Linked DNA regions of Homo sapiens: all the other regions are linked to region 2. The links come from fine-mapping of genetic effects on gene expression. A gene starts in region 2. Each other region holds a variant in brackets. All regions are shown on one strand. Distances are between the middles of the regions.

What was found.
Region 1: its variant is fine-mapped to the expression of GRAP2 in whole blood (TOPMed, PIP 0.94).
Region 3: its variant is fine-mapped to the expression of GRAP2 in whole blood (TOPMed, PIP above 0.99).

The regions. Positions count from the first base shown.
Region 1 is chr22:39,919,742-39,922,506 of GRCh38, forward strand. The region is part of intron 1 of GRAP2 (GRB2 related adaptor protein 2); the gene reads left to right. Among named protein-coding and RNA genes, the nearest start is that of GRAP2, 20 kb to the left of the region's middle. RefSeq lists an enhancer at 1,337-1,386. The variant C/A (reference allele first, on the strand shown) is at 1,381.
Region 2 is chr22:39,899,813-39,902,577 of GRCh38, forward strand. It overlaps GRAP2 (GRB2 related adaptor protein 2), which reads left to right and starts at 1,272. Exons shown (of 8, transcript NM_004810.4): 1 at 1,272-1,518.
Region 3 is chr22:39,976,165-39,978,929 of GRCh38, forward strand. No RefSeq gene overlaps it. Among named protein-coding and RNA genes, the nearest start is that of TMA7B, 17 kb to the left of the region's middle. The variant G/T (reference allele first, on the strand shown) is at 1,129.

The DNA of each region.
Region 1 (2,765 bases), 20 kb after region 2:
TATTTACTAAGCATCTATCTTGAGCAAGCATTGGAGTAAGTCCTCCCATAAATATGAAGTTGTGTAAATAAGGATGCATGCATTCATGTAAATACAAGTTTAATGCTGGATATATATTGTTTTAAGTGCCTGATATGTATTAGTCTATTTATTCCTATCTAAGGGGATAAGTGCCATTGTTGTTTCCATCTTAAAGATGAGGAAACTGAGGCCAGAGAGATTATACGAACTCCTAAAACCCTAACTCTTAACCACAGCATTCAGAATCTATCTGGTTGTAGTGGAGGACCCAATGTCAAAAAAGCAAGTGCTTTTCCCAGACCATGAACACAATGTGTGACAAATTAGCAGTTCTTCCCCTTGCCCTAAGATAGTAAATATCCACCCAGGCCAACTTGTGTCTGTCAGAGAACAAAGAGTGGGCTTGTCACACTGTTTTCTCCCAAGAGGGTCCATCTGCCTCCGCTCCTTTGGTACACGCTAGGGGACACACACTGTCCAGCATATTCTTGCAGAGTCATATCTTACCCCACATCTTATCACAACCCTGCTGAATGTCAGGCACTATCAAGAAAATGTTCACTCATCTTCTTCCCGTTATGCCCAATGTGTGAACTGATAACACATCTAAATTCAAAGAAAATCAACAGACATCACCTCAATCAACCTGAAAAGTCTGGTGACTCATTCCCACCCTTCTCACGGGGCTCCTGCTGGGCTGCCTGGTTCTCCGGAACCAGCCTCCAGGCCTCCTGCAGCCGGGGTGCAGCTCAGTGTTCGAGCCCCCTCTCTGCTGCCCATCAGATGAGTGTTGACTTTCTTTGGCACAGGCATTTGAGTTGCATTTGAATTGCAGAACATGCTGCCCCCATTCTGTGCTGACTGTGACCCCACTTCATGTGCCCCAGAGGCAGGCTAAACAAGCTTGCCTTGGAAAAAATAACAGGGAAGAAGATGCTGACTCTCCAACCCCCAGAGTAAGTTCCGTCACTCTGGAGGTAAAGTCATAATATCTAAATATGGCTCGATTCATGTCAGGTCTTATAAATACACACACACACGTGGATGCTGAAACCGTGCATGCCCTGACAGCCAAAAAAAAAGTCAAAACGACTTACTGTCTCATTAGCAGGACAAGACCTGATAGGCCAGCTCACCAGAATAAAGAATACAAAAAATGGGTATTTAACTTCTCTACACAGACACACACACACACACACACACACACACACACACACACACACACACAATCTGATGTAACGACCTCAAGAGAGCTGGTTGCCCTGGCAATGAAGAATCGTTTGTATATTCAAGGATTTTCTTGTTTAAATTTAAGCTAGCCACTTGAACTTCTCGAGCTTTCTTGAGCTTAGCTTCAGG[C/A]CTCCATCCCCAGACAGAGGTCTGACATCTATGTCAGCCTCTAGCAAGGCAGGAAGCTTAGAAGTCGGACCAAAACCTCACAAGCCAGCCAGCCTGGATTTGAATTTCAGCTCTATGGTTTCTCAGCTGTGTGACCTGGGTTAGCTGCTTAACCACCTTGAACCTCTATTTCCTCACCTGTACAATGGGAATAATAAAATTAAAACAAACTTGCATGGGTTCATTATGAAAATTAGATTGATTGATGACATAATACATAGCAAGCATTTAGAGCTGTGCCTGATTCCGAATGTGAGTTATCTGTAATAGTGACTTGAAATGGGTTTACACTGCCTGGCAGGAAACCATTCAATTCCTTTTTGTTTTTGACTTTAATCTTTGAAGCGCTTTCATCTCATTTCTTCTTATTTTGTGTTTGTGGAGAAGGAGGATGTTTAGCCATCCTTGGAGTACAATCTTTTATTAAAAACCATTATTAAGTCTCTTCAAGTTTCTCTTTTGTAGTAAATGATCTAGATTACTTAATGGTTCTGTTTTACATGTTTTAATCATTTATTTGAACCATCTCCAGATGTAGTACACACAGAAATATTGTCTAGGAAAATGTGTTACTGAAATTCCTTATCATCTGTGGTCCATTAGCTCAAATGTTTAAAACCCATTGTTTTTATTTTTATTATTTATTTATTTAGTTATTTTTGCAAGACAGGGTCTCACTCTTTTGCCCAGGCTAGAGTGCAGTGGCACAATTATAGTTCATTGCAGGCTCGAACTCCTGGGCTCAAGCAATCCTCCAGCCTAAGCCTCCCCAAAACTTCTTATTCTTAAGAGCAAAGTTGAGTTCCATCATATTGTCAGTTGGTTTCACTCCATCATATTGCCAAAACCACCTAATTCTCAGATGCATAGTTTAGCACAAGCCAAACCAGAAGAGACCATAGGTCATTCATTCATTATTCATTCAACATTTACTAAGTGACTGCTGTATGCCAGAGGCTGGGCTATGCTGTAAAGTCACAAAGAAGATACTTCTCAGTTGGGAGAGCTTACAGCTTGAGAGAGAAGACACACAAGCAAACAAATCATTACAAATGCCTTTCCATTGGGTGCCATACTTGAAATGAGAAGATGAGGCCAGGGTACCCTTGGGGCAGAAGGGAGGGAGGATTAAGCTCAGGGAACAGCTTTACAGAGAAGGTAACATTTGCACCATATTAAAGGATGGCAAGAATTGAGGAGTACAAAAAGGAGAATAGTCCAAGAAGAAACACTCAGGGATGATTTGCACATTGTAAATTTAGGTAACCTTACATGCCTTACATGGGGCTGCTGTGACTGAGGCACAGGGTCAAGGAAGGGAGCAGAGTCATAAAGCTACCCAGGTC
Region 2 (2,765 bases):
TCTCTACTAAAAATACAAAAAAAATTAGCCAGGCATGGTGGCAGGTACCTGTAATCCCAGCTACTTGGGAGGCTGAAGCAAGAGAATCACTTGTACTCGGGAGACGGAGGTTGCAGTGAGCCAAGATCATGCCATTGCACTCCAGCCTGGGCAAGAAGAGTGAAACTCCGTCTCAAAAAAAAAAAGGAGTTATGGATAGAAAATTACTTCCTTTAACTCATTCGACAAATATTTACTGAGCATTTTCTGTCACCTTGACACTTTGCTGATTCTTCTTTTCTATTTCAATAAAAATGTTGGGCAATTATAACCAAGGAAAAGGTTTTAAGAAAGTAAATTTTAAGCAAGGTTTAGATATAAAGAAGCAAAGAGATGGAAAAGGATGCCGTTTCACATTGCAGAAAAAGTTTAAATTTTAGAACCCCAAATTGAATCTCTCCTTGACACTCTCCTCTTGGTATTCCAGGGATTAATGCTAGGAACATCCCAGTGAGCCAACATTTCCCTCCTCATCTTGGATCCAGTCCCCAAACTCTGAATGGTGCCACTTAGCAAGTAGCAATGTCTCTAATTTTCTGTAAAAGATGCAACGTTGGCAATCCATTTTCTAGCAAGAGCAAAGAGAAAGGAAGAGGCCTTCACAAGTTGCAGTTGATATAGGGGGAAGGGTGAGTGGTACATTTAAAGGTAAGAACTAAGGAAGTTGAAGGTAACAAAACTCAAGGTCAATGGAAAGTCTTAAATCCCAGAAAGCCTTCAGTCTAAGACTCAACAGAAATTGAAGTCCCAGAAATTGAAGGAACTGGTTCCACCTCATGCTGGACTGTGGCAAACCTGGGGTGAGAATGCATCCCAGCTCAGAATGTTTCTTCTTTTTTTGTCAAGAGTAATATTAGAGGCTGAGTGTATGAACAAAGCATCTTTCCTGGGATTTTAACATTGTGAGTGATCGAGGGTGCTCTTAAATAAGTTCCCCCAAGAAGCCCTAATGTTCCTCTGGATGCATGATTATACTAAGAGAATAAGAGTTTTCCTTAAGATCAGCTTGCTGATGGACCATATCAAGAACTATAAATTTTCTTATGTGAACACAAGTGTTCAGGGGGGATATTGTTAAAACTGAAACCAAGCATAAAGAAGCAAAAGTGTTTCAGTGAACCTCCTGCATTTTAGTTCAACTCTGGCAGCAAGAAAACAAAACCACATAATCTAAGGCTCACGCCCAACTCTCCGAAGCCCCATATGTGCTAGTTCCTGTGTGGTTTGCCTACAGACTGCAGGGCTGACTAGGGTTAGTTTGGAGGAGGGAGTAAGAGGTGGGGAGGAGGAGGCACAGTTAATGGATCTGTAAACTTGCACCCTCTTTCAGAGTGGTACATGGAAGACAGCACAAAGTGGATCCATACTCTGAAATGCAGTAACTCTGATGCTTGAATTTGTCTCCCTTCTTGCCAGAAAGGATTCTAATAACTCGGTGTCAAAGCCAAGACATAAACTCAACCCCTTCTCTTCCAAAAGGTATGTCATTATACAACATCTGTACATATACTCTAGAAACTTTGAACAGTTTTATAATTTGCAGAATGTTCTGTATGAGTTAATTAAAATGAATCTCACTAGTTCTCTAAATATTGCTTTTAAGTCCCATCAGCTAAGGTCTCTAAACCTTTTGCTGTGACAATGTTTGTGGTGATGGGATTTGACTTCTATCAAATGAACTGGGAGAACACTTGTTCCTTACCCAGTCCATAACACAAAAATCTCCACAAACTGGCTTCAGAAGCATCTCAGGGAAAGATTTTCGACCTTGGGATCATGGAGGTAAAATTCCACTTCACCATGGTCAGAATTTAATCCAAATTGGAAGGGATTGGAGGGGGTGGTAGAGGGCTGAGCAGTGATGAATGAACACTAGCACTCTGAGGTCAGGATTTCTCTCTTTGCTTGAATTTCTAGTTCTGTTCGCATTTTTGTTACCTGTACAAAGGACACCAGTTTTCATTCCTTTACGAAAAGAAAACTTTATGTTGAAGTGTATTTTGGAAGGGTATTGTCTCTCTTCGTACTAGCCGTTAGGCTCCATCCCTATGACTGTCTCTGGTTTAGGCGTCCAGTCTGAAGATAGCTGCTTTGTGTTCTTTGTCCCAACTCTTCCTGAACGTGAGGATTGAACATACCAACCAAAGGTTTCACTAATTTAAAATGTACTGTATTGCCCTGACAGGTATACTGTCAAAAAAAATTTACCGTATTTATCTACCTGGAATTAGGCCTTCTTAATAAAGTGTATGCAGCATAATTTGCACACTATTGAACATACACATCCCTAGATAAACTAGGAGTGGGAAGTGTTTTAGATCTAAACATCCAATGGGAAAAATTTCGTGTGTTCTCGTTATGTTATCTGAGGATGGGAAACTTCAGGTCGCAGAATCTTTTGTTCTATGCAGCAATGTTTGTCATAAACGGTTTAGTTCTTTAGTGGCTCCTTTTTGTTTCTTATTTTTGGTTTCGGAAAGAGTATTTAGCAGAAGTTACTCTCCTTTAACAATCCAGTATTTTATGTAAAACTTTATAGAATAATTTTATAGTGATTCTCTTTACAAAACCATCTGCTATTAAATAAGGAACACTGTGTAAATAGAGGACCACCTAAGTATATTTAATTTTCAAATACGAAAAAAATCTGACTCATACCCTTTTTTGTTTTTTTGTAAAAGAGAGGTGGCCCTATATTATTGAATAAAACTGCTTTTTTAGATTGA
Region 3 (2,765 bases), 76 kb after region 2:
ATGGCCAGCCTGTGCCCAATTCTGAGAGGCACTGCTTGGACCCTGGCTCCCTCAGCATCTTCCATGAGCACAGCTGGCTCTCTTCTCAGCCGAGCCCTCCCTCCATCAGACAGAACAAGGGATACCAACCCTTCCCTCCGTCTCTCTCTTCTCACTCTTCCCTGTTGCCTCTTTCTCCTTGAGCTCAAAAGAAGGGGAATGTACCTACATGCCATCGTTAGCTCACAGCTAACCTGAAACACAACAGCCCACACTGGGGACTGATTAGCATGGTCAAAATATTTGCTGTTTTCTCAGTCTAAAGTCAACACTTCAGCCTGTCCATACCAAGGCAAGGGTGTCCTCTGCACCACACCATTTGTGCAGTAGATACTACCTAGAAGCCTAGTAGCTGTGCACTCACTTCTATTGTTTTAAGTTTTGCTGTAATTCATTCATTAAGTCAACAAATATTTACAAAGCACCTCTTCAGGGTCAGACACAATCAGCCATCGGGTCCTTCACATTCTCTCAACTCTGTCCCTTCTCTGCACCCATTCCACAGCCACTGCCTTACTTCAAACCTCTCTCACTTCTTTCCCTGATGACTGCAATAGTCTCAGCACTCGTCTCCCTGCCTTTCTGGCTGGCCCCCTGTAATACAGCCTCCAACGCAGTCAGGGAGATCTTATTCGCAGACAGGCTGATGATACCAAGCTCCTGCTCAAATCTTTGGGTTCTCCATAGTCTTCAGGCTGGAGTTTAACCTCCTTAGCTTCGCACTAAAGGCCTTTTGTGATCTGCCTGCTGCCTTGTTCGTTCAGCCACATCTTCTACCTCTCCAGTCCCAAACACTCTTTACTTCAGTCCCTTAGAACTATCTGTGGTTCCCAGAATGAGGCATGTTTTCTAAGACCTCTGGTCTCCTACATTCTGTTCTTTTTGCCTGGAATGCTTTCTCCCACTGTTTTGTCTAGACAAGGGCTGTCTATTAGGACTTTCTGTGATGAGGGAAAAGCTCTGTATCTGCTCCATCCAATGTGGTAGCCACTAGCCACTAGCCACATGTGGCTATTGAATACTTGAAATATGCCTGGTATAAATGACTGAAATTGCCACATGTGGCAAAGAGCTGCCTTATAGGGCAGC[G/T]TGGGTCCAGACAACTGTTACTTACTTTGAAATCATTAGCTCAGGGCTCCAGGTCTCCACTGGGAAACCATCCCAATATTATGGTTGATGTAAGTGCCCCCGTTCCCCCACCCCCACTTATGTTCCTGTAGTAACCTTGTTCTCCCTCTATCCCAATACTCAGAACACCATTGTCAGTGATTCACTGATCTGCCTCCTCTGCTAGACCAAATCTTTTTTAGGTCAAAGATATGCAGTGCAGTCAATAAATGGTTGATGCCTAGATGCAGTGACGTGCTGGTAAAGATTTAATAATTGGCTCTCTCTAAGAAGAAGCCCTAACTTGTGGTATTTGCCAATTCTATGGTGTAAACACTCCCACCATATGCCAAGAGAATGAGAAGACAAGTCACAGACCAGGAGAAAATATGTACAGAAGACATATCTGATAAAGGACTATGATACACAAAGAACTCTTAAAACTCAACAATAGGCAGGGCACAGTGGCTCACGCCTGTAATCCCAGCACTTTGGGAGGCCGAGGCAGGTGGATCATGAGGTCAGGAGTTTGAGACCAGCCTGGCCAAGATGGTGAAATCCCGTCTCTACTAAAAATACAAAAATTAGCCGGGTTTGGTGGCGGGCACCTGTAATCCCAGCTACTTGGGAGGCTGATGCAGGAAAATTGTTTGAACCCGGGAGGTGGAGGTTGCAGTGAGCCAAGTTCCTGCCACTTCGCTCTAGCCTGGGCAACAGAGCAAGACTCCATCTCAAAAAAAGAAAGAAAGAAAGAAAGAAAGTAAGAAACAAAAAAAACCAACAACAACAACAAAAAAACTCCACAATTAGAAGATGAACAACCCAATTTAAAAATGGGCAAAAGACATGGACAGCTCATGGAAGAAGATATAGATGGCAAGTGAGGAGATAAAAAGATGCTCAATATCATATGTCATTAGGAAAATACAAATTAAAACAATGAAATATCACCACACACCTATAAGAATGCCCCATATCTATAATACTGACAACACCATATGCTGGTGATGATGTGAAACAACAGGAACTCTCATTCATTGATGGTGGGAAGGCAAAATGGTACAGCTACTTTGGAAGAGAGTTCGACGGTTTCTTGCAAAACTAAACTTACGCTGGTCATAGGATCCAGCATTCACACTCCTTGGTATTTACTGAAAGGTGCTGAAAACATCCACACAAAGACCTGGACATGGATATTTATAGTGGCTTTATTCATAATTGCCAAAACTTAGAAGAAACCAAAATGTCCTACAATAGGTGAATGAATAAATAAACTGTGGTACCTCCAGACAATAGAATAGTATTTAGAAAGAAATAAGCTACCAAGCTATGAAAGATGAAAACCCTTAAATGCATATTATTATTATTATTATTATTATTATTATTATTATTAAGATGGAGTTTCACTCTGTCACCCAGGCTGGAGTGCAGTGGTGTAATCTCAGCTCACTGCAACCTCCACCTCCCTGGTTCAAGCAAATCTCCTGCCTCTGCCTCCCAAGTAGCTGGGATTACAGGCGCCCGTCACCACGCTTGGCTGAATTTTTTTTTTTTTTTTAGTAGAGACGGGGTTTCACCATGTTGGCCAGACTGGTTTTGAACTCCTGACCTAAGGTGAT